6 separate regions of the Homo sapiens genome follow, and all the other regions are reported to be linked to region 2. Evidence: microRNA targets listed by miRTarBase, many of them from high-throughput screens and not tested one by one. Region 2 holds a microRNA gene; each other region holds the end of a gene's coding sequence. Distances are between the middles of the regions.
Evidence for each region. The annotated mature microRNA hsa-miR-548bb-3p reads CAAAAACCAUAGUUACUUUUGC and lies in region 2 at 1,791-1,812, opposite strand. An mRNA with a match to its seed (bases 2 to 7 or 8) in the 3' UTR can be bound and repressed. Matches are read on the target gene's strand: a 7mer-m8 pairs with bases 2 to 8, a 7mer-A1 pairs with bases 2 to 7 and ends in A, and an 8mer does both.

Region 1 (4,135 bases), not on the chromosome of region 2:
TGTTGGTCAGGCTGGTCTCGAACTCCTAACCTCAGGTGATCCACCTGCCTTGGCCTCCCAAGTGCTGGGATTACAGGCATGAGCCACCACACCCCGCCTAAAAGAAAAAGATTTTTATTGTTCTCCAACTGACCCTGAAGGGAGCAAGCAGAATAGAGGGTATCTCATTTCTGTGTTTCCACAAAGCCACTGAAACAGGAATTTCATAAGGGTTCCTTCTGTCACCTATTTTCCATTTCTCTCCTTTGTCCCCAAACTTGCCCCTGTGCAGCAGCCAGCTCCTGTCACCATCTCTCTTTCAGAGGACTCCTGATGGATTTGACTCAGTGCCGCTGAAGACATCCTCAGGAGGCCTAGACATGGACCTGTGAGAGGCACTGCCTGCCTCACCTGCCTCCTCACCTTGCATAGCACCTTTGCAAGCCTGCGGCGATTTGGGTGCCAGCATCCTGCAACACCCACTGCTGGAAATCTCTTCATTGTGGCCTTATCAGATGTTTGAATTTCAGATCTTTTTTTATAGAGTACCCAAACCCTCCTTTCTGCTTGCCTCAAACCTGCCAAATATACCCACACTTTGTTTGTAAATTATGCCCTTGCTTGTATCTTGTTTCCCAAAATGGCCCATCCGCCAGAGCCATAGCTTCGTCTGCTCATAATTCTTATAGCTTTGGAATGAAAATATTTCTATCTTCTTAAGTATAGAAACTATTTCCTCTGTCCTCTAACTTAAGGGCAGAAACAGCTGGGAGTTTTCCTCGCATGCCCTCAGCTCATGATCTCTTCAGGAGAGAGGCTGGGTGAGGAGGGTGTCGGGGTTCCCTGGTGGATAATCTTCATAGCAGCCTGGATCCATTTCCCCTGGATAACCAGCTCAAAGGGAGTGAAAATGGTAGTCTGAGGGCAAGGGGAGCAAGGCCTGGGTAAGAAAAGCCTTGAAAAGCATAAAAAGAGGCCGGGCGCGGTGGCTCACGCCTGTAATCCCAGCACTTTGGGAGGCCGAGGCGGGCAGATCATGAGGTCGGGAGATTGAGACCATCCTGGCTAACACGGTGAAACCCCGTCTCTACTAAAAATACAAAAAATTAGCCGGGCGTGGTGGCGGGTGCCTGTAGTCCCAGCTACTCGGGAGGCTGAGGCGGGAGAATAGCGTGAACCTGGAAGGCGGAGCTTGCAGTGAGCCGAGATCGCGCCACTGCACTCCATCCAGCCTGGGTGACAGAGTGAGACTCTGCCTCAAAAAAAAAAAAAAAAAAAAAGAAAAGCACAAAGAGAGGCAACAAGGAATGTTTTTGTTTTTGAGACAGGCTCTCACTCTGTCACCTAGGCTGGAGTGCAGTGGCATAATCACTGTTCAGTGCAGCCTCAAGCTCTTGGGCTCAAGCTATCCTCCCATCTCAACCTCTCAAGTAGCTAGGACTACAAGTGTGCACCACCAGGCTCACTAATTTTTATATTTTTTGTAGACACAGGGTTTCACCATGTTGCCCAGGCTGGTCTCCAACTCCTGGGCTCAAGTGATCTGTCCGCCTCAGCCTCCCAAACTGCTGGGATTACAGGCATAAGCCACTGCACTCAGCCTTTTATTTGTTTTTTAAACCACGTAGCTCATTGCCTTCTCTTAAGTAAATGATAGATATTCTCACTGAAGCCAAAGGAATAAGTTCATCAAGAAAATGCCCAAAGCCCTGGTGGATACATCCTCCCTATCTTTTTTTTAAACCTTCCACTATCACTCTATGACACTGAAAAGAACCAGGTAAGCCCCAAACCCAGATGTTCCAGCCTTATCCTCTGTTGGGTTTACCCACAGACATAGCAAACCCTGTCAGTGAGGAAAATTCCCCATCCTTGAGTGCCCCCGTCCTAGAAGTTTGGGCCATATTATGGAACAGGGGTCTCTTATTTGAAAAGAGCACAAGGAGGCCAAGATTTTAATGGGGCACTTTAGGGGATACAGCCCACAATGGCATGGGCCTGAGGTGGCCGTGATGTCTGCTTCTAAGCTTAACGCATCTGCTCAGGCACAGAATAAACGTCTAGGCTGGCCAAAAAAGGAACTGAATCCCAGGCCCATACGCCAGCACCAGAATCAAACCAGTCTTCAAGGAAGGAAGGCTAGGAGAGTTTAACAAGATTTTCACTGGGCCCAGCATGGTGGCTCACACCTGTAATCCCAAGGCAGAATGGTGGCTTGAGCTCAGGAGTTCAAGACCAGCCTGGGCAACACAGTGAGACCCTGTCTCTAAAAAATTTAAAAATAAACAAGGTGTTCACCAAGCTGGGATACTTCTCACTATTAAGCCCCTATCTTTCTCTTTTTTTCATTCTCAATTGCTTTGTGTGATAAAAAACTAAAGAGACTTCTGGTCCAATTTCTGGCAACATCCCTTCTGAAAGGTGAGTAGAGTGGGTGTCTTCTATGCCCATTTTCCCCAATTTTACACAAACTATTATCAATGAACTTTTAAGTACCTAGAATGGGTAAAACCAGAGCAAGACTTTAAATTACCTTCTTCTTTCTTCTACTGGCAGTTCTGCCTCCATCACTATCAGGCTAGGGTGACCTTCCCTTGGTCAAGCCCCAATTGCCCATGATTTGTGCCTGTGCCCTTTCTCCAGTGACCATTTGGTGACCAGATGGTAGATATAGAAAGGGGATGGCATTTGCAAGTGACTAGTCTGCCACAAAATGCTCATCTGATTAGCCACTGCTGCCCTGGCAATGGCTTTGTAAGAGTCAATGAGAACTAGAGCCAGGCTGTGGTCCCTGGCCATCAACAGTGTTGGTGACGGCAGGGAGTCCCTTTGGTTTAATAAATCCAGTTTTTCTTTGGGTATCCAAATTCTCCCCTCCTTTTGTAGGAGTCAGGCTCTCAGAACCTGTGTCCATGTTGGAACTTCCCCCAGTGTGGATGCAGATACGCAGCTCCTGAGCTCCAGCCTAAAGTCTTCTGTAGCCTCAGCAATACTTGGGCACCTGCTGTCTCACTGAATAGCTTTCTTTTGTGACAAAGGCCACAGACAGCCCTTAGACTATTCCGGAAACAGTAGGAAAAATTACATATGTCTTTGACTTCTTTATTCTGACTCCACTGATTTTAGCCATAATACTTTAAGGAGCTACTTTTTACTACCCCTTACCGTGCTGACTTCTGCAGGTCTGCCCTGTGACCTGTCAGGAACTCCTGAGTTACGCTACTGGGGTCACCTGTTGCTCCCCTAGCAAGTTAGGCATGTCATATATTTTTAACAGCTTTATTGAGATATAATTCACATATTACACAATTCACCTTTAAAACATACGATTCAATGGTTTTCAGCAAACTCACAGAGTTGTCCGCCCACTTGAGAGCAAACACATGTTCAATTTTCTTTTCCTTTTTTTTTTTGAGACAGAGTCAGCTTTGTTGCCCAGGCTGGAGTGCAGTGCCATGATCTTGGCTCACTGCAGCCTCCCCATCCTGGGTTCAAGTGATCCTTCTGCTTCAGCCTCCCCAGTAGCTGGGATTACAAGCATGCGCCACCACGCCTAGCTAATTTTTGTGTTTTTAGTAGAGATGGGGTTTCACCATGTTGGCCAGGCTGGTCTCAAACTCCTGGACTCAAGTGATCCACCCACCTCGGCCTCCCAAAGTGCTGGGATTACAGGTGTAAGCCACCGTGCCTGGCCTACATGTTCAATTTTCTATGAACAAAGGCTTTAGTCCTTGACCCAGGGCTAAAGTGGTCTGTCCAAGCTGTTGTTGGTAGAGGGAGTATGATAAAATGTTTAAATCTCATTTGGTTACCTTGAGTCCTGGAACATGCAGTAACTGTCATGCTATAGACATCATCTGTATTTGGCTGGGAATACAAATGAAGATTGTGGTGTATTCAAGCAGTAGGGTTTTTGCTTTTGTTTTTGTTTTAGTGCCAACAAAACTTTTTTTTGTCTGACTACATTAAAGATAAGACTGACTATATTTATACAACAGAAACTTTGTAATAGATTTTTTCAGCTTTGTGAAATCGAATTTTTTTTCATCAGGGCTGGTTGGATTTCCTTTTTACCCTGTAATCCAAGCGTTAATAGTTTGTTAGAAGATGGGTTATTGCATGTCACTTTTTTTTTTTGTAAAATAAAAACATACCT
Region 2 (4,135 bases):
TCTGTCTATGAGTTATTAACACCCTTGTCAGTAATATCACTTGTCATTAGGTCACAATTCTTGGGACTACCATTGTCTAGGTTCTTCTATTCCACATGCTTTGTTTCTGTGCATGTTGAGTCCAACATGTGTGTATATTTTAGGTAGTGTCACCTGTTTGGATATCCACAAGACCTATTTACACAACACCTGTTACAAAAACTCACCCCAGATGTTTTCTTGTTTGTTCAGTTTAATTTATTATACAAATCTTCACATTTGAAAATATAAGCAAAAGTGATTCTAAGCCACTACAGGAAATTCACAAAAGCAACACCTGGTGTCAACATATTTCATCACATTTTAATGATTATGATGTGCACAGGTGTGCTGAAAGTTTCTCCTCCATACTCTTTGATTCTTTTTTAAAATTTTTTTAATTATACAAGTAATACACTTCTAGAACTAATAAGCAATCATAGCAAGCTTGTGGGACAAAAGTTAATATACAAAGTCAATTGTCTTCTTATTGCTAGCAATGAACAATTGGGACTTGAAATTAAAAACACAATACCATTTACATTAATGCCAAAAATTTAAATACTTAGGTATAAATCAAACGTGAAAGATCTATATAAGGAAAACTATAAAACTTTGCTGAAAGAAATACAAAAGATCTAAGAAAAAGGAAAGCTATCCACATACGCAGACAGGAAATCTCAATATTGTCAAGATATCAGTTCTTCTCAACTTGACCTATACATTCAATGCAACCTCAGTTTTAAAAATCCCAAGCCAAAGTAAAAGCCATCTACGGCACACAGCATTCCGAAAGGTTTGGGCTACCTGACTATTATGGCACCAAGAAATCTCTGGTATATGAGAACTTTCACTTTAATTCAAAATGTTGGATGACCTGATTTTCAGCAGAAATGCTCTTCAAATCAGTTTCACTTAGGCTTTTTGGTGTGAAGTGAAACGATGCAGACAATGAGCTTTGGAGAATGAGGAACCACTGAATAACTTACTATGGAAGTGGATACTGACATGGCAAAGAAACGACAGCCTGGAGTTTTTAACAGAATGTTCCCAATGAGCAGGACCTGAAGATGTTTCTTCGTTCCAAAGGAGCTAGCAAAGAAGTGATTGTTAGCATCATATCAAAATAACTAAAAGCTATAACACACACTCTTGAACGTCTTTCAAAACAATGGGATCTATGAAGGATTATGATATCAGATCTTGATACTGTAAATATTTTGGGCCATTCTCCTGAATGCTTTCTTTTGTCCCATGAAAACCTAAACTTAGGGATTCTATGAGTTCCTCTACTCAGCTGGATTTACCTGTAAATGCCTTTGTTGATTGTTGACCAATGTCCCTTGTACCTTTTCCAATAGTCTCGATCTGAATAAACAGATGGTTAAAGTTTTGCAGGAAGTATATTTTTCATTGGGTCACAATGATCCCACAGATTTTGTAAGAAAGATGATTTTTTAAAACCCTTTCATCTTAATTCAGGGTACCAAGCAGGTAAAAACTAACATTGAATTTTTACAGGCAAGTTTCAATTTGAACAGTAGGGAATTGCTATTTTAATATGTGGTCCAGGAACCAAAATCCTAGACCTTTCCAATGACTATGCCAAAACAAACTACACAAATATCAAACAGAAGCTGTTTTCTCTCTGAGGTACTGAAGAAGAGGTACAAAAGCTTGCCTTAAGTTATCCAGATGTGGGGAAAAAAAGTTATCCAGATGTGATCTTTTGGCAGAGAAAAAGTTTAGTGAGAAGAATATTTTAGCTTGGTGCAAAAGTAACTATGGTTTTTGGGCAAAAACCATAGTTACTTTTGCACCAATCTAATGGATTGTCTCATAGAATAATAAATTAGCCTTCTGTGAAAGTAATTTGTGATAACTGAAAAATCCTTGGGTTCTGGATTCAAGCATAAGTACTTTATAAAGTCAAATCAAAGAATTAGTAAATGCTGGCTGTAACTTGAGGACATCAAGCATCACTCTTCTACTCTGGAGTTAAAAAAAAAAGATACAAAGTAAATTTAAAAAGTTAAGCAGAACACTGGGGAATTTTTGAAAGCCAGTCATATAATGTAGTGGTATCTTTTCATTTTGAATTTGGGCCTTTCAAAAAGGAGGGGTATGATTTCTTAACCACAGATATATATATGTAATAATTCTTTGGCTATTTTGTTTTACAGGTTTATGGAAACTCATGGTTGATATGCTCAGGTGCAGTCCTCCTAGCTACCTATTTTCCAGTTTGAATTACTCCAACATACCATTATTTGATACAGGCTGTGCTGCTGTAGAGATGGTAGTGCCATGGTGATTTGCTACACAGATCATCCCATCACCTAGGTATTAAGCCCAGCATCCATTAGTTACTCTTCCTTATGCTCTCCCTCCCAGCAGCACCCCTCCAACAGGCCCCAGTGTGTGTTGTTCCCTCCATGTGTTGACGTGTGCTCATTATTCAGCTCCCTGTTGTAAGTGAGAACATGTGGTGCTTGGTTTTCCGTTCCTGCGTTAATTTGCTGAGGGCAAAACCTGATTACTTTGAAAACAAGTTCTACTGTGGCAGGCAGAATCATGGCCACACCTAAAGATGTCAACGTTTTAATTTGAAGAAGCTGCGAATATGTTATGCAAAAAGATTTTGCAAATGTGATTAAGTTGAAATTTGATTAAGTTAAGGGCCTTGAGATGACCTTGAATCATCTGAGTGGACCTAATATAATGCTAAGGGTCCTTAAAAGTGGAAGAAGGAGGCAAAAGAGGTCAGAATGATGCTGTATAAGACAGACTTGACCACTTTGAAGGAGGTGAAAAGGAGGCTTTGAAGAAGGAAGGGACCATAAGCCAAAGAATGCAGGGGGCCACAAAGAAAACTGAAAAGCCAATGAAACAGAATCTCCCCTAAAGGCCCCAAAAAGGAATGCAGTACGGCTGGTACCTTTTCAGCCCAGTGGGCCCAGTATCATACTTCTGTCCTACAGAACCACAGGATGATAAATTTGTGTTGTTTGAAGCCACTGAGTCTGATAATTTGTTACAGCAGCAAAGATTAACATAGCAACTAAGTAGATGATTTGTTGCATTATAGGTGGTCACAAAATACAATCCTTTAGTATCATGTATTTTTTCCTCTTACAAGAGTAATTACATTTAAAAAAGCTATCTACTGTTCTAGAATCACTGTCGTTGTTTACAATAAAGTCCTTTAAATGTGCGCATAAAAAACTAAATGTGAATAAAATGTAAATAAAGGAATATTTTTGCCTAATAAATACAAAGAAAATGAAAATCCCAGCAACCTATTTTTTGTGGATATTAACAAACTGATTCTAAAGTGTACATGGAAAAGCAAAAGATTCAGAATATGCAAGACAATATTAAATGAGAAGAACAAAGTAGGAGCACTGACACTATCCGACTTCAAGAGTTAGAACAAAGCTATAGTAATTGAAACAGTGTGGTATTGGCAAAAGCCACCAAATACATCAGTGAAACAGAAGAGAAAGCCCACATAGTCTTTTCCACAAATGGATCTAGAACAAATGGATACCCACATGCAAAAAAAAAAAAAAAAAAAAAAAAAAAGAATCTAGACAAAGACCTCACACTATTCACAAAAATTGACTCAAAATGAATCACAGACCTAAATGTAAAATGTAAAACCATAGAACTCCTAGAAAATAATGTACAAGAAAGTTCAGCTGATCTTGAGCATGAAAGTGACTTTTTATATATAATACCAAAGGTGCAATCCATGAAAGAAATCATTGATAAGCTAGACTTCATTAAAATTGAAAACGTCTCCTTGATATAAGACACTGTCAACTGAGAAAGACAAGCCAAAGGCTAGGAGAAAATATTTGCAAGAAACATGTATGATAAAGAACTGTTATCCAAAATATTTTTTTTAAAGTCTTAAAACTCATTAAGAAAAATAATTTAAAAATGGGCAAAAGACTTGAACAGACACCTCACCAAAAAATACATACAGATGGAATACAGGCATATGAAAAGAAGCTCAACATATATTATTAGGATATTGCAAATTAAAACAATGATACCACTATGTACCTATTAGAATTGTGAAAATTCAAAACAATGACAACACCAAGTGCTA
Region 3 (4,135 bases), 51 Mb from region 2:
CCACTGGACTTGGTTCTTTCCATTGAGTCCTGAGCCCCAGGCCAAGAAATAAATTTACTCCCCGACCACATTTCCACAAAGCTCCTGCCATCACTTTCTTTTCAGCAGGAGCCAACTGGGACCCAGAGCACTTGGTGCCCAGAGTACTCAGGAGCAGACAGGGGCTGGGGACCCACTGTGGGTCAGAGCTCACCCTCCCCGTTCTCACTCACCCTGGTGTTGCTGAAAGTCAGCTGTAAGGCATTTGGAACTCTGGGGAGACCATGATGTGCAAGACAGATGCTTTCTAGGGCCAAGACACAAAAGGCTTTGCCTCCAAACTAGTGATAAGGAATCAGAATTGTTTTGAATTAAATTTGGAGACTTGAGGTACTGGAACTAATCCGCCCTCCTCATGACAACCCAGCTTCCTCCACACTCATAAAGGAGGCATCTTTTGGCTCCAGCAGACACTGATATGATTGTAAGAACTCTGCCAGGGATGGTGCTACCTGGGGGCAGCAACTATTCCTGCATCAAGGCTGCATGGCCTCAGCAAGGCACAGCATCTCTTTGAGTCTCTGTGTCATCTGCAGGCTGGAATATTACTCTCCTTGGAGGTGCATGGTAAGCATCAGATAGGAGGGGTGGGTAAAGGGCCTGGCACAGTGCCAGGCAGATAGTAGGTATGCAACAGAGAACAGCTAGAGTGCTCATGACTGATCCTTGAAAGTTAAGTTTCTTCTCTGGTGAACCAGGCCCAGTCGGTCTTCTAGGGTTCTTCTTTCTATTTATATCTGTCTTCCTTCTTTCACAATTCCATCCAATTTTGGGATGTCAGCTCTCATCCCACCTCCTCCACAAAACTGTCTCTGTTCTTGGAACTCTCTACCAACAACGCCCACCATACTTATGGTGTGGCCCAGTGAACATGGAAGTGAGTGGTTAAGAGGAGGGGGGTCTTCAAGCAGAGCTGCCATATATGGCTGCACAGGTTGGGCACTGCCCAAGTATAGGGAGTACCATTCACATACACTGTAATGGGAGTGGGGCCCCAGTGAGTTGTAATGAAGAGGCTCTCTCTGTAAGCCAAATGGCCTGAGTTTGAATGTTGGCTCAACCACTCAATTGCTTGACAAAGCAAGGTATGTAACCTCCTAAGCCTCAGTTTCCTCATCTGTAAATGGGATGTTATTATGGGGTAGCTGATACCTACCCCATAATATTAGGTAGTTGAATGAGTTCAGAACAATGCCTGGTGCATACTAACATTTACTGAGCCCTTCATTGCATTATCATTATGATTAGAGTTGGTTTCTCATCATTGCATGTGTGGGTGTCTTTTCTCTCTGAGAAGGCTGTGAGCAACCTGGGGACAATGAGTCACTGAGAAATTGCAGCAGCTTGGCCCAGCACCTAGTGGGAGGCAGGGCCTCATGCTGTCCTCTCTCTCAGGATCCTACTTCATCTTTCTTTTTGCCAAAATTCACTTGTAATAGGCCTTTTTTAGTTACAAATCACAAAACTCTAAAGCAAACTAGTTTAAGCCAAAAGAAGCCTTTGTGGGCTGATATATGTGGGAAGTCTAAGGGAGGATCCGGTGGCTTCAAGAATAGCTGGATGCAGCACTTCTCCATCTCCTGGCTCTGCTTTTCTGAGCTGGCTTTATTCTCAAGCAGGTTTTTCCCCATGGGAGGAGAGCAGGTCACTGGGGTAGACTGAGTTTATAGTCTATGGCTTATGGTCCAACAAGAAGTGGAACTCTCCTCTCAGCATCCACAGAGCAATCTTATGGAGGGCCTCGAGTGACCCAGCTTGGGTTACATGCCTGCTTCTGGGACTAATCATTGTGGCTAGAGGGATTGGCACTTGACTGGCCAAGCTGGGGTCATGTGTGCACCCTAGTTTGGCAGTTGGACAAGAACCATGTGTGATGGGGAAGGAACATTTCTCCAACAGAGAGGTGCTGGGTATACGAGAATGTTGGCCATGTTCGCCCTCCTTCTTTATGGCTCAGTTCATAGGTCACTTCCTTAGGGAATCTTACCCTCCCTTCTCTCCTGCGTGGACCTCAACCTTCCCACAGTAAATTGCAAATTATTCCCTGATTCTCTCAGACCAGTCTGGGAACAACTTGAGGCAGGTACCAGAGCATATTTATTCATCTGTGTCCCTTAGGCCAAGCTTCCTGCCCCAGCTGTGGAAGAGACGTTGTCGGTGGTCTATCTAGCACTCACTTCCCTGTTTCCTACTCAGATCTTGTTGGGTTTTACTCTCTCTCCACCACCTTGATGGAGTAGCAAACTCCACTCTGACTGGCATAAAGCCATTACAGTCTCCTTTGCCACAGTGACTGAGGAATGGGCATGTGAGACTGAGTTTGGGCCACTGAAACATGATGGTATCTGGGAAAAGGCTTCTTGCTTCTGTAGATGGGCCATGGAAGCCCGCTGGCTCCGGCTCCCTCCTGTGCTGGATGTAAATGAGGAAGCATCTGGCCCCAACTGCTCCACTGCCACACTACAGCCAGAGAAGGACTCACCTTAGGCAGAGGTCGACACTGTGGAGGGCAGTGTGGTGACCCCTAAGAAACCTGGACCCTTGGGGGAGGGGGGAGGGAAAGCATTAGGAGATATACCTAATGTAAATGACGAGTTAATGGGTGCAGCACACCAACATGGCACATGTATACATATGTAACAAACCTGCACGTTGTACACATGTACCCTAGAACTTAAATTAAAAAAAAAAGAAACCTGGACCCTTGATGACCCTGAAGAATTGCTAGATTGGCTAACCGTGAAGGCCACTCTGTCCCAGGACTGCCCATCCTGCAGCCAACACATTTCCTTACTGTGAATCCACTTTGAGCTGGGGGGGCATTGTTACGTGCAGCCACAAGTATCCTCAGAAAGAGGTACTCAGAAAGTTCTCCCTGACTGAATGCCATGGGTTAGTGGCCATGGGCTGAGAGCCACCAAGCATACCCCCCACAAACCTTACCACCCACACTGGTTCCTTCCTCCCCACTGTAACAGACATTCAAAGACTGGATGCTTTTTTTGAAAAACCACAGCAGTCACTTTATTCTTAAGTTTGCACTTTACAAAACCACAAGGGAGAAGTCCTTGAAGGGGAGACAGGGGTAGGGGATTAGGGAGTGGGGGATGGTAAAGAGGGGAAGAGGAAGACCCAGAAACGAAGTCCCCTCCAACCCCATCTCGGGGACCAAGCAGAGACTAGGCCTCAGGCTAGCCCAGCAGGGCTTCCTGTGTCCTGGTTGTACAGAGCTAGGCCAAAAGACCTCAGGGGAAGGGCCACGGCCCTCTAGAGACTGCCGCCATTTGAGGGACAGCCACAGGCCAATGTTTCCTGTGCCCAAAGAAGGAAGTGGGCCTCCCTTCCCCTCCCCTAGGCCAGATAATCAGCCTGAGGCAGGGGTGAGGGCTACCCATCCAGCAGCTTCAGGATGCTCTCACGCTCCTTCAGAGTCTTCCAGGCCTGGTCCTTTTCTTTCTTGGTGGGAGTCCGCTTCTTCTGCCGGGCAGCCATGATCTTGCGAAAGGCGTCCATGACCTCGTTGTCAGCCATGCGCACCCGCTGCCTCAGCTCCTGCCGGCTCACCTCCTCCTTTGCCAGCCTGTGGGGACCAGCCAGCCAGGTGCCAGGGTCAGCCCACCTCCAGAGAACAACCCCTCCCTCTTCAAGACCGAGCCTACCCACCAGCCCAGGCTGGCATGCCTGTGGATTGTGTCATACAGTCGTGACCAAAAAGCAGTTACTGACCTACACTTACATGGCACTATCTTAAGCTCCTGAAAAATATTAACTCATGTTGATCACGGGGGAGGCTGTGCACATGTGGGGACAGGGAGATACGGGAATTCTCTGTACCTTTCTCTCAATTTTGTTGTGAACTTAAAACTGCTCTAGAAGAATAAAGTCTTGGCTGCACATGGGGGTTCACATCTGCAGTCCCAGCACTTTGGGAGCCCAAGGCAGAAGGATCACTTGAGCCCAGGAGTTCGAGACCAGTCTGAGCAACATAGTGAGACTGTCTCTACAAAAAATTTAAAAAATTAGCTGGGTGTGGTAGTGCACACCTGTAGTCCCAACTCCAAGGGAGCTGAGGATTGCTTGAGGCCAGGAGTTCAAG
Region 4 (4,000 bases), not on the chromosome of region 2:
CAAAGTTAATGAGGAGAAATTAGGCACAACTGTCTAAGTTAATGCAAAACACACAAAGATGCCAAATGTTTATGTAAAGAAAGCTTTAACTGGTTTTGTTACAGGATTACACACAGAGACAAAAGTATGCTATGATAAAGTTACATATACCCACAAATATTGACTGGCAGTCAAAGATGGGGTGGGTGAGGGAGGTTAGTTTCTGAAACACAGCATGATACAACTCTTCCTCCCACAATTATTGGATTAAATGTTGGCACAAAGTTTAGATATTTCTGCCACATTGTAGATTCTACCCCATTAATTTTGATGCCAAATTTCAATTTACCACCTCTATTCAAGATTTTATGCTGTATGAATATTTTGGAATTTAAAATGCTGACAGTATATCTTCTGGGCAGTCAGAACCAAAAAGGAGGAATGGAAAGGAGGAATTCGGGAAGGGTTAGGGGAAAGTTAGAATATAAAAAGGCTAGGAAATAGATTATTAACAGAATTTCTAGAATAAAAAGTTTTCCTTTGGTTAGGTTGTTAGGTCAGGATGGAAAATTCCCCAAACTCCTTCTTCAAGTATTTCAGGAATGTCAATGAAAGTTTCACTTTTACAGGAACAGCTTTTCTTAAAAACCAAAACCAAAAAAAAAAAAAAAAAAAGCCAATATATTAAGAGCTTTAATATCAGAAACTTCAACTTTTATAGATCTTTATTCTTCAAACTTTATGTCAAATTACAAATAAATAGTCCATACCATGTAGCTCTTTATGATACACGTCTTCAGGCAGAAAACAGCAACAACCAAGAACACATCGGAAATGAACTCACAGTAAATAACCAATTTTAAGTAGAGAAAGGATATATGACATTTCAGTGTGGTCCAATATGTACACTGTTTAAAAGCGGATCCCCCTGTAAAACATCACAGATGTACATAATTCTTATGGGAAAAAAAGAGCCCACACATCAGAGATTTTTAAAAGTTTTTTCAAAGTTGTATCACAGGGACTGGTTGTTTAAAAATGGCAAAATCTTGAGTATTTTAGCAGCAAACAAGTAAGTTATTCCAGGTTAATCTATTTTTAAACGTTGCTGAAAAAGTTGCAAGCTTTAGAGAACATTATAAATATCAAATCCACTACTGAAAAGCAAAGTAGTATTTAGAAAGTAGATACTACTTTCAGGTTTGTTCTGTGTCAGCAAAAACTTTTTCATGAAGTTTCTGCTAAGAAGGATGTCAGTGGAGGAGCAGTGGGGAAATAAATGGAGGTGGCCACCAGTCTTGGCTCTAAGTTGCTAAACTTACTGGAACATGTAATGCTTACGAATTCTTCATAGAGCTTAGTTTATTCCCAGTAAACAATAGTTCTTAAGAACCATTCTTTTAGATCTGTATCTTATTGTCAGATATTTGTATTAGATTTAGCAATTTGAAATTCCTTAAAATTTTGCTCCCCAAATATCTCCTGGTTAAACCAGTATTTCTTATATGAGTCATAATTGAGTGGTTTTTTCATTGAACAGTTTTTTCCTCTTGAAAGGGTAATTTTAGAGGATATTATTTTTTAAGTCACTAAAGATAGTTTTGCTTACAGACAAATTTGTTTAAAAGGGGACTCTACTTAATTTCACTTTCTACTGTGGCATTTGACACCTGGCATCTGACATTTTAGGACTGAAAGGAATTATAAACTTCATATGAGAAAACAAACGAAACTAAATAGAGTTTAAGCCTGCCTCATTAGATGGTTCCATCAGTGATCAGCTACATAATTCATCTGACACTATTTCAAGTCACAATTATCAGTATCTCTCCTTTGAAGCATTCACACTTTTTTCCTAGATACAATCTCCTTTTTTTAATCATCTGAAAGCAAACAATTATTCTAAAGACAAGGCATCAGAAACAAATTCTCTCCGCCCACTGAGATTTAATTTTTAGATCACAGCATCCTCATATAGAAGTTCCATTCAATATTTTTACTTCTTCTTGGCAGTTATCCCAAACATTAATATTTAATTATGAAAAGAGAAAAGCATTCAAAACATAATACAAATATACAATACAAGAAAAGTTGAAAACAAAAAACACTGTATTGCAATGTCTCCACATACGATGTTTGTGATGCAACCAAACACACACTACACAGTCCTGGCTGCTCCTAACACTCCCCTTACTTTACACAGACCTAGGTTCATCTTTTTTTTTGTTTTTGTTTTTTTTTTTTTTGATTTTTGCCTTTTGATGCCTACAGTAACTGAGAATCAACAAAGTAACTAGTCTGACATGAAAAATGTGGTGCCTATGATTTAAGTCCTGATTTGAGCACATCTTAATTGGTGCACTATTGCTTTTGATAATCCAGATATAACAACAGACAAGCAGTAATAAATGAAGAGACTATGTATCACACAAGCAAGGTTTCTGAATTACAAATAACTTCAACAATGACATCAAAACCTATGAATTAAATCTTAACTCACGCGGTTATAAAGTTAAATTCTCATGTGTCTTAGTGAGAATGCTATCATCAAATACATTCTAAATTCTTTCATTTTTTAGTGTACAAAGGTTATGGGAGAAAGGATAAGGTGCTTTTTAAATAAGCTACCACTGACTCACACACATCCATACACGCATCAGTGCAAACTAGGAAAAACACTAATTTTAAAATGAAATAATGATTATCTAGACTAAAAGGAGACTTTGAGATAGAATAATTTTCCATGACTAATTTGTTTACAAATATAGATAACTCAATGTACATATAGTCAACGAAATATTCAAAGAATAACTTTATATACTCTTGTTCTTTAAATTCTATCCTCTCTTTCAGAATTCTTCCATTTAAGTTTGGGTATTTTCCTAGTTTCAACAGATGAACAGAAGACTTCATTGAACATTTTGACAGTAAGCTACTAGAGACCAATTATCAACTGGTGCTACACATGCTGTGTTATCTCCCTTACTATTAAACTATAACCCTCTCTTGCTATTTTGTTTCATGCATCACCAACCAAACTTCATTTTTTCTAATAAAAAATAAATATATAAAGAAGACACTGACAGGCATATATTCACAAGATCTCAACTTCTTAAAACATAAGTATGGGTATATTTATTTCTCTCAAATGCATACAAGACAATAATTACACAGCAACAAATCTTTTGTTCAACAATGATTTGATTCATAAGCATTTGAAATTTACATAATTTCATATCAATACCCTTGTATTTTTAAATACAGTAAGTAAAAAAGCCCCCAAATAACCAATTCTTATATTTCCTATTTATCCCTCTATACATCCAAACTTTTAAAAAGTTACAAACTGAACATTATACAGAACATATAAATCATGTTTAAAAACTTGAGGTTTTAAAATCACTGCTTCCCCAATATGATTCAGAAAAATTCTCATACTGACAAGTACAGTCATAGGTGGTAAAGTAAGTTGGTGGCGGGGAAAATGAAAGAAGAGACAGACACAAGTTTGCTGTCTTAATGTTTTACTAATCCTGTCAGTTAAAAATGGTGACGTCATGAGAAGTAATAGTTTAATATGAGGAATGGAGTTTGCCTTGCAGCTTGAGACATGCATTTCAAGTATTTTCCTATTTGATCTGAGCTCACTGTAGCAAACTGATGCCAGAAGAGAATAATTATTTTCTTCCATACATTCGCTCAATGTCCGCCTGGTAATGTGTTTTAAGCTCTTTGCGTTTCAGCTTGAAGGCATCTGTCACCAGACCAGTTTCAGGGGTCCACGGTTCAGGACTCAAACGAATTTTTACTGGAATTTCAAACTTTTCCAGACTTGCTAAGATGATTAAAAAAAAAGAAAAGAAGAAAAGGTATTTAAGTTCTTAGCAAATGGTGTAACTTCCCCACTTTTTGCGTATCCATCAAAATGCACAACCAACAAGTGAACCATGAATGTCACTTCTAAAGAATCTATTCCTCAAAATACAAACATAAGTAAAACAATAAACTATTTAACAAGTCC
Region 5 (4,135 bases), not on the chromosome of region 2:
TGAAAAGGATCAGAAAGGTGAATCAGTAACAGGACAATGAGTACCTGAGTAGAAATAGGTGTTTCAAGATGCCAAGAACAGTTTAAATATACAGGTGAGCTGAGTCTACAAGAAGGAAAAGTGGTTATGGCAGCCTGTTTCCAGATCTGATCATTGGAATGACATTTCTAGCAATGGCTTTGTCTGTGAGGTCCTGGCATATTTTGTGTAGCACAGATCCCTTTAAAGGAATGTTTTCGTAACACTCAAACTTATGTGGGAATGCAAATTACTATAGTGTAAAAATTCAATGACTTCCCACCTATTCCTGCAGGGCAGGAGATCAGAAGTCTTAAAACAGCTGTGGCTAAAAGCCCAAGCCCTCCCACTGCCCCGTGATAAAAATATTAAAGAAATTAACAAAACAAGCATCAGATGAGTCAATGGGCCTTGTACCATGTAGACAACAGATAATTTATAGCGACTTCTTCTGCAGGCAGCCTGAGAAACAAGAGCTTGCATACGAAATCCTGCCCTATCATTAAATATAATAATGAAAAAAACAGGGCCATTAAATGAGACCCTAAAAAAGTCTAGCTGCCAATCAGGTTGGGAAGATAAATAAAACAGCATAGTTTATTTTAACCTATATCTTCCACACTAACCTAGTTTGTCTATAGAAAAGCCATCTGCTGGCACCAGGCCAGTATGTCTTAATTTTCTTGTTATTCTAAGTATCTCATTTTTCCAAAAGAGGAAATGTGTAAGTAGCAGGTGTACATAGGTGACACATTTCTACAAAGCCTTCTCTGTAGTCTTGACCTGTGTGGGGACAGGGTCTACTTTTGGAAGCATTTTCAAAGGCAGAATAAAACTTTACTTGAGGTTTTCTCCATAGAAGGACACCAGAGTTGTGCCCATATGATGAGTCCCTCGTTGGTGTTGAATAAATTGTCTTTTCTCCAGGAAATAACCTTTGTTCTTTCATATTTACAGGTTTCTTTTGATGGACAGATGGAGTAATCTCCAAAACAAGAAATGGGGCAGAAGCAGTTTCTTTTCTGATCATGTCTCTGATGAAATGATAGGTCCTAGACTTTTCTGATACCTTGTATGGTGTGGGGAGGGGCTGGGCTGTGTCCTGGGATGGATGTACAGGCTGCTGTCTGGACCGGGGCTGTTCAGAGCCCCGTGGCCTTTTCCTGATGTTCCCTGCGCATCCAGCGCATCCACACTTTCAGGAATAATCATCTTGAGGAATTTCATCCCCAGCTGTTTAAATCAGAGTTCCATTTGCTGGAAAACAGAGAGAACCTAAATGAATTAACCCTTGGCTTTTTGGTATAACTTTTAACAAACATAATAATTCCATCATTCAGATTTCCAAATAGAGGCCAAGACGTAGTTTTATGCCCACTTGGTCTCCCAAATCTCTTGTTCACTGTGAATCTGTCTACTCCCATCACTTCCTCAGGAGCTGCAGAGAGAATTGTGGCAGACTAGAAGAGCAAAAGCTCATGACCAATATTACAGGCCAACATTCATAAATGCAACTTAGCATAGCTTTTTCTCCTTTCCTCTTCTGGAAGTTTTTAATCATGTCCCTGAGGTGGTAAGGAGCTTAGGAAATTAAAAGTGCACAAAAATGTTATCTAACAAGGAGAGGGAAAAGCAAAAGGTAAATGAAGAAAAGATGGAAACTCAATGTAATTCAGTTTGATATCCAATGCAGGCAATATAAGGGTCAGCAGAAAAGGGAGGCTGGATTCATGGGGTTTCTCAAAGCAAGGAGGACCCAAGGGGGAAAAAAAAGCAATTTTGGTGATTTTGAATGTAATAGTAAGAACTTCTTGCTCCATTGTAATTCCAGGGATCCCAGAATTACAATGGGATTCAGCAATATGAGTACAATTTAATTTGGAAGCAAGGCAGGAGACATAAGTCACTCTTTGAAACACAGATGGACTTATATAGCTGAAGTGGGTAAAATAAGGCTCCCATTAGCATTTCATTTGGAGAAAAAAGCAAGGAAGATGGAAATACCTAATTATACTTTAAAAGAAAGAAAAAGAATGTGTGAAGATGGTTGACGGTTTCAGGTCCTCTGTAAAAAAGGTGGCTTCTTCCTTCATATAAAACACTGTCTGGAGGATCAATTTAATTTATAATTAGGGAGATGAGAACGAACAGGTAAATGAATTGTTTGTTCTTTGTGGGTGTCCCCCCTGCTGTACATGCTCATCCTCCTCCTCTCTGGAGGTGTAGGTGGGTGGGGTCATTTCACTAGTGTTGTCTCAGTTAGGCCTCCATTCCTACTTTCCTTTGAAAGCTGTTCTTCTTGTGTACTCAACCCAGAAAATTCCAGGCCTATTGTCCTCAGCCCTCACTAGAGTCCTAGATACGCACCGTTTTATTTTCTTTTTTTGGTGTAAAGATTCAGTTAAAAAATATCTTCCTTCAGACATCTGCTGACTACAGGAAATTATTGTCATAGCCCATGTGAAGGTCATAATGAGACTAAGATGACGTTTTAAAACTCCTGAACTCTGTAGGGAAAAGCAAGTAGAAGCTATTATTCTTACTCGCTGGTAACATACTGTAGATAGCTCCAGGACTGAGACCCGAGGCCCGGAGGACACACTTAGTGTTCTCCCTATGTCACAGTCCTACAGGCCAGCAAAAGTGAGTACAACTGTCCCAGCATGTCAGTTACACATACTGGCCCTAAATGTTCAGCATAATTTAAAAGGGAAAGAAAAAAGTTGGCTTTTCAGACAAAATTTTGTGTGAACTGAACAACGTCAGACTATGCTTCTTTGGGTCCAAATAATTTTAACTTTACAGCTCTCAGATGTTCTGGCAGCTCATTCTTTGTTCATTTCACCTATTATACAAGTGTTTCTGGGTCCAAGCCACAGAGCAAAATAGACACAAATAAATCAAATAATAAATGTTTCATATAAAGGAGAAAATGCTAATGGTCTGTTATCTATACCAGCAGTCCCCAACTTTTCTGGCACCAGGGACTGGTTTCATGGAAGACAATTTTTGCAGGGACCCAGGAAGTGCGGGGTAGTGGGTGGTAGGATGGCTTTGGGATGAAACTGTTCCGCCTCAGATCCTCAGGCATTGAGGAGCCTGCAACCTAGATCCCTCACATGTGCAGTTCACAACAGGGTTTGTGCTCCTATGAGAATCTAATGCCGCTGCTGTGACAGCGGGCGGAGCTCAGGTGGTAATGCTTGCTCACCTGCCGCTCACCTCCTGCTGTGCAGCCCAGTTCCTGACAGGCCATGGACCAGTATGGTCCGTGACCTGGGGGTTGGGGACCCCTGATCTACACTACTGCACTGTAGGCTCTAAGGGAACTTAAAAACAGAAAAATAATGGAGAGAAGGTGTTTGTAGAACACAGACATGTCAGCAAAGGCACTGAGTATCTACTCCTGAGTGGTTACCTTTCCCTTTCCCTTCAGTTGCTCTCAGCCATGCTTTCGGTGTCACAATCTTTTGGTGGTTCTCCTCCTCCTGGCAACTCACTCTCGATTTCCCACAGGACATCGTCTTCCTCCTCCAAGTTGCTGGAGATATGGCACTTCTTGAACCCTTGGACGATGGACTCACTTGAGATGCTATTCCACGCGACCATGACCCACTCCAGAAAGAGGCCCAGGGGTGGCTTCTTAGCATTCCCGGTTGGGCTCAGCGCCAGGTTCCCAGCCAGAAGCCAGTTGGAGTACTGGGCCCGCACACTGTCATTCAGTGGCTTGTAGACCACGACATCCAGCACCTGAAGCTGTGAGGTCAGACCCCCTGGGATGATCACCATGTCAGTGTTCATGCTTTCCATGGAGTTCTTCACGGAATCTGTGGCATGGCCCCGGAAGCCATTCAAGATCAGCATCCCTCGCTGCTTGGGCACTGCTCCTGTCCTCCGTCTCCACACCACTTCCAACCAGTCCTGCATCAAGTCTTCAGTCATCCACCCATACCGGTGGCAGCGAATTTCCATCCCACTGGGAAACTTCCCCGGGGGGATATATGTTCCCCTCAAAATGATGTACGGTGGTAACTTCCTCCCATCAGCCAAGACACCAAGCATTGCTGTGATTTTCAGTTTTTCCCTGCCTGGTGTCTTGACCAAGACAGGCTTTTCG
Region 6 (4,000 bases), not on the chromosome of region 2:
CCAAAGGGGTACCCTTTGCCCTTGTAGCCTCTGGAAAATGTTCTGGCCATAACCCTGGAAAGAGTCTGCCCAAAGGCTAGGCTTTCCACACTTGGTCACGCTCTATGCACTTGAGATGGGACATGTGTTCCCTTCACTGGACCAATGGGGGTGGTCTCTGAGAGTGAGAGAATCTTTATCTCAATGGGAGCCCTTGTAGCCAAGAGGACTGTGGGGAGTCAGGGGTATGTCTGGCTTAGGAGGAAGCAACCCTGAGCTTAATACTGAGGAGCATAAATTCTAAACTCCTTCACCTCTCCTTTGTATGAGTGTGTGGTACCAGGTACAGGGGTACCATGAGGCAAGCATTGTGGGGGCACAAGGAGGAGAGGGGTGTGTCAGAATCCCTCAGAACAGATAGGTTAGGATGGAATGCATAGTTAGACTAATGACAACTTTACTGAGGTTGGAAATGGATGTCCCTGAGATGGTAGGATTAGTGGTCCTTAGTTGGGTGGTTGGACCTTCCTGAACTTGCTTCATGCTAACATTTTGGCACTCAATTGCCAATTTCTTAGAATGTATGATGGTTCTGCTTGAAGATGGCCACTCTATTCTAATACAGGTTGGTGATATGCAGTACAGCTGCTGCAAGGAACTTGTAATGCAGCAACTGAGAAGTCTTCAGTCATCCTCCTGCACAGACAACTTTGTGTCACCTGCCAACTAGCCCCTCTGCCTCCACCCCGGGGCTTTCAGAGCATAGTGTGAAACCTCCTTGCTTGGACTACCATGAGTTCTTTGGCTTGTTATGAATCCTGTAAAAAGGGAAGGTGGCTCTGGAAGAGCAACTGAGAAAAAGTTCCCAACTGAGCCCTTGGAAAAAAAATAAAGGGGAGAGGGGAAAGGCAGGCTGAGGTCAGTAGAGGTCAGGGTGGTCTGATAGACTATGACCCTGTCTTCCCTTTTTCTCCTCTGGGCCTGAAGCCAGGGAGTATGAATGAATGTTCAAATGGCAGCTTGTTTTACCTTCCTTCTCCAGCAAGGGTTGGCATTGGCCCCTGGGAGCGCTGGAATATGAAACCAAGAGGCAGGCCTGGCTCAGGGCTGAAGGGCTGGGGCTAGCTCTGACCAGTTCTTGCTGCTCTACCTGCCAGAGCTGGCCAGGTCCTTCCAACTTCCCAGGCTTATCCCAAACACATATGTGGTGCTTCCAGTCCCAACTACCCTGCCTGCCACTCCTCACATGGGACAGTCTCTGCAGATGCATTTACCCAACCATGGCTATGACTTATGTCTTCCCTTTACAAGGACTGGATTATAAAGTATGCTTTGTTTAATGTAACTTGAGCAAGCTTTAGGCATATCTTTCCTTTGTTACTCTTAAGCAAAGTGGTTTCAGTTATTAGTTTAACTAGAGGGATTTTGTGCTAATGAATGGGTATTATAGGCTAACACCTGTGATGGGAGGCACAGCTCTGAATGCTTTCTGTTGGGATGAGCAGGTTCTGAGGCCAAGCCTGCTCCAACCACAGTGCTGCCAGGAGGAGGAGCCGGCTGCCTCTCTCATGCTGTGCTACCACAGAGCCATTCTCTAAGCAGGGGAGTGCAGCTGACAAAGATGCCAGCTGGGGCTGTGTAAGTTGTGTTGGGGGCATGAATGACTGAGCCACACATTCAGAGGTGGTTTGTGAAGTCTTCCACTGTGAACTATGGTTTTTTTTTTTTTTTTTTTTTTTTGGTGTGTTTGTGTAAATGTGCTAAGCCATGGGGTGGGAGGGGAAAGATTTACTAGGTGCAAAGTGGTCAAGGGCCAGATATACTATAATTGTCTATATTATAGAGTTAGTATACATCTGTATTTTTTCTTGACACACTTTTGCTTGTTGGTGCTTTCGTTAAAATTACACTTTAATTGCTTCCGATCCTGTATGAGTCTTATTTTGAGCTACCATGCATTTAGCCTTGCGAGAGTCAGATACATTTGGAACACTATCTCCTAGGTCATATCAAGAACTCTCCTCTAGTCCAGAACCCATTTTACAGATGGAGATGCTGAGGCCATGCTGCTCACAGCTTCCAGTGGTGGCCGTTGAGTGCCCTCTGCCTCCTTCCTTCCAGTGTAAGTGGGACCACAGTGCATGAGGCAGAAGGACATCCTGAGGGCCCATACCAGTTTAGGCATCCCAGGCTTTAGGGGAACTGCTGGAAGACATCTGCTGCTTAACCAGGTGGCTATGGATGTGAGCTGGATTCTGAGAGCTGATCCAACTCAAACCTCTTGGAGAAAGCAGAGGGTAGACATGTGAGTCCTAGGACTGGGGTAAGAGACAACCTTCTGCTCTGGCTTTCTATAAATGATAGAACTCTTCTATAGGGAAGCTCACTTTTGTATTGCCGAAGTCCCACTCGTGGATTTTTAAAAATCTTATGTGCTTTTCAAGCTTGCCGTGGGGCCCCAGGTCCCATCCTACTTCCCTCTAATATTCTTTTCTGACATTAGGAACTCCTATCCCACCTCAACTCAGAGATTGGGAAACATTTCTCAGGGAGAAATATGGATACAATCTATTTTCCTTTTGACCCCAGCTATTGAAAGGCAGGGATTGGTGAAGGAATGAGGCTGAAGAAAATGGAGATGGAAAAAGCTCAGAGGCAGATGCTATGGCAGAAAGAAAGGTAGGTGGGCTCAGGGAGGAACAGGGCAGGGGGAGCATCATAGACCTGTCTTAAACTTGTCCAAACAGTACTTCCCTGAAATGAATGAGCCAAGTCATTTGATGATGTTTCCACCACCTAGGAGGCCCTCCTCCCCCTGGCTTCCTGGAGAGTCTCTGTCCTTCAAAGCTTGGTGAATACTTTACTTTGCCTCCCTGCTGCCTGCACAAGTAGAGCTGAGCTATGCCTGCATTAGGGATGTGTTCATACCACTCTCCCTGCAGGGGTCCCCATTTTCTCATTTTGGTCTTCCCAAACCTACCTAGTGCTCAATGGAGAAAGCTCCTTAAAAAACAAACCCACATACTTTTTATCACTTCTTTTCACCAGTCTGCTCTTCCTCAGCCACTTTTGCCTGTCCCCTAGGGCTTTCTACCTCTAAAAAACAGTCTCAGGTCCACCAGCCCACACCATCAGGCTGTGTACTTTAACACTAGCCACACTTTCACTACTCTTCCATCATTCCATTGAGATGCCAAGGAGCAGGTGTAGCTCAGGATTTAAGGGTACAGACTACCAGCGTTCAAATCTCAACTTCTCCAGTTACTTGCCATGTAACCTTGGGTAATTACTTAAACCTCTGTGCTTCAGCTATAAAATGGGGATGAATGGTCCCTAATCATAGGATTAGGATGAGGATTAGAGGAGTTAATGCATGTAATATGGTTCCGAGCAGTCCTGGCACTCGAATATTAGTAGTCCCGTGGCAAGCCTTTGTGTTAAGGAGGAACACTCCTCAAGGGCAGGTGCCCCTTTTCTCATGTCCTGCACCCAGTTAACCAATAAAGATTCATGGACCACAGGCTGCCCCTTTACCTTCCTGTAACTTTCCTGTGACTCTTCCCTCCATCCCCCACCTATGCAAGAGCCTTTCACAGATGTCTGTAGCAGGGTTTCCTATTAAAACAATTCCTACAGAAGTAGATCAACCTCCACAAAATTCAAAGAACAGACAAGCTGTATTTTACCACAGTTGTAGCAGATTAATGGGCTCAGGAAACGTTAAATCAGAAAAGCTACTGCCCAAAAAAGACACCACAAAAACTCAAAATAAATGCAAAATTTAATGAAAAAAATAAGTACAAAGTGAATGGAAAAGAACAAAAACAGTCAATGAATGCAGGAGTAAATGAATTAACACGTGAAGCAATTTTAGAAAAGCATGTTAACGTAACAGACTAGCAAGCCACACTTCCTCAGGCCTCGTATCCATGAGCCCCACTTAACAGGGAGCCCACATTTACACATACACAAACATATGCAGTCAGTAATGCACAATTACAAACCACCTAGATCAGGGTAC

Region 1: miRTarBase lists ELAPOR1 as a target of hsa-miR-548bb-3p. Seed matches in the 3' UTR shown: 7mer-A1 at 3,548-3,554 and 7mer-m8 at 3,888-3,894.
Region 3: the mRNA of TADA3 is a reported target of hsa-miR-548bb-3p. Seed matches in the 3' UTR shown: 7mer-m8 at 3,045-3,051.
Region 4: the mRNA of ACSL3 is a reported target of hsa-miR-548bb-3p. Seed matches in the 3' UTR shown: 7mer-A1 at 3,358-3,364.
Region 5: the mRNA of POGK is a reported target of hsa-miR-548bb-3p. The part of its 3' UTR that is shown has no 7-base or 8-base seed match.
Region 6: the mRNA of CCNI2 is a reported target of hsa-miR-548bb-3p. Seed matches in the 3' UTR shown: 7mer-m8 at 1,694-1,700.

Annotation. Positions count from the first base shown.
Region 1 is chr1:109,202,642-109,206,776 of GRCh38, forward strand. It overlaps ELAPOR1 (endosome-lysosome associated apoptosis and autophagy regulator 1), which reads left to right. Exons shown (of 22, transcript NM_020775.5): 22 at 303-4,135. The coding sequence ends at 371. Among named protein-coding and RNA genes, the nearest start is that of SARS1, 9.2 kb to the right of the region's middle.
Region 2 is chr3:60,616,025-60,620,159 of GRCh38, forward strand. MIR548BB (microRNA 548bb) reads right to left here and starts at 1,846; the gene lies at 1,781-1,846. The region is part of intron 4 of FHIT (fragile histidine triad diadenosine triphosphatase); the gene reads right to left. It also overlaps the pseudogene MTERF1P1.
Region 3 is chr3:9,776,931-9,781,065 of GRCh38, forward strand. It overlaps TADA3 (transcriptional adaptor 3), which reads right to left. Exons shown (of 9, transcript NM_006354.5): 9 at 3,037-3,619. The coding sequence ends at 3,427. It also overlaps a transcript of OGG1 not described here. Among named protein-coding and RNA genes, the nearest start is that of CAMK1, 9.1 kb to the left of the region's middle. RefSeq lists an enhancer at 1,215-1,509.
Region 4 is chr2:222,941,311-222,945,310 of GRCh38, reverse strand. It overlaps ACSL3 (acyl-CoA synthetase long chain family member 3), which reads right to left. Exons shown (of 17, transcript NM_004457.5): 17 at 672-3,814. The coding sequence ends at 3,657. Among named protein-coding and RNA genes, the nearest start is that of ACSL3-AS1, 24 kb to the right of the region's middle. RefSeq lists a silencer at 1,140-1,289.
Region 5 is chr1:166,849,725-166,853,859 of GRCh38, reverse strand. POGK (pogo transposable element derived with KRAB domain) reads right to left here. Exons shown (of 6, transcript NM_017542.5): 5 at 3,437-4,135; 6 at 1-1,275. The coding sequence ends at 3,451. Among named protein-coding and RNA genes, the nearest start is that of POGK, 12 kb to the right of the region's middle.
Region 6 is chr5:132,752,262-132,756,261 of GRCh38, forward strand. CCNI2 (cyclin I family member 2) reads left to right here. Exons shown (of 6, transcript NM_001039780.4): 6 at 605-2,142. The coding sequence ends at 709. All of the region lies in intron 9 of SEPTIN8 (septin 8), which reads right to left. Among named protein-coding and RNA genes, the nearest start is that of CCNI2, 6.8 kb to the left of the region's middle.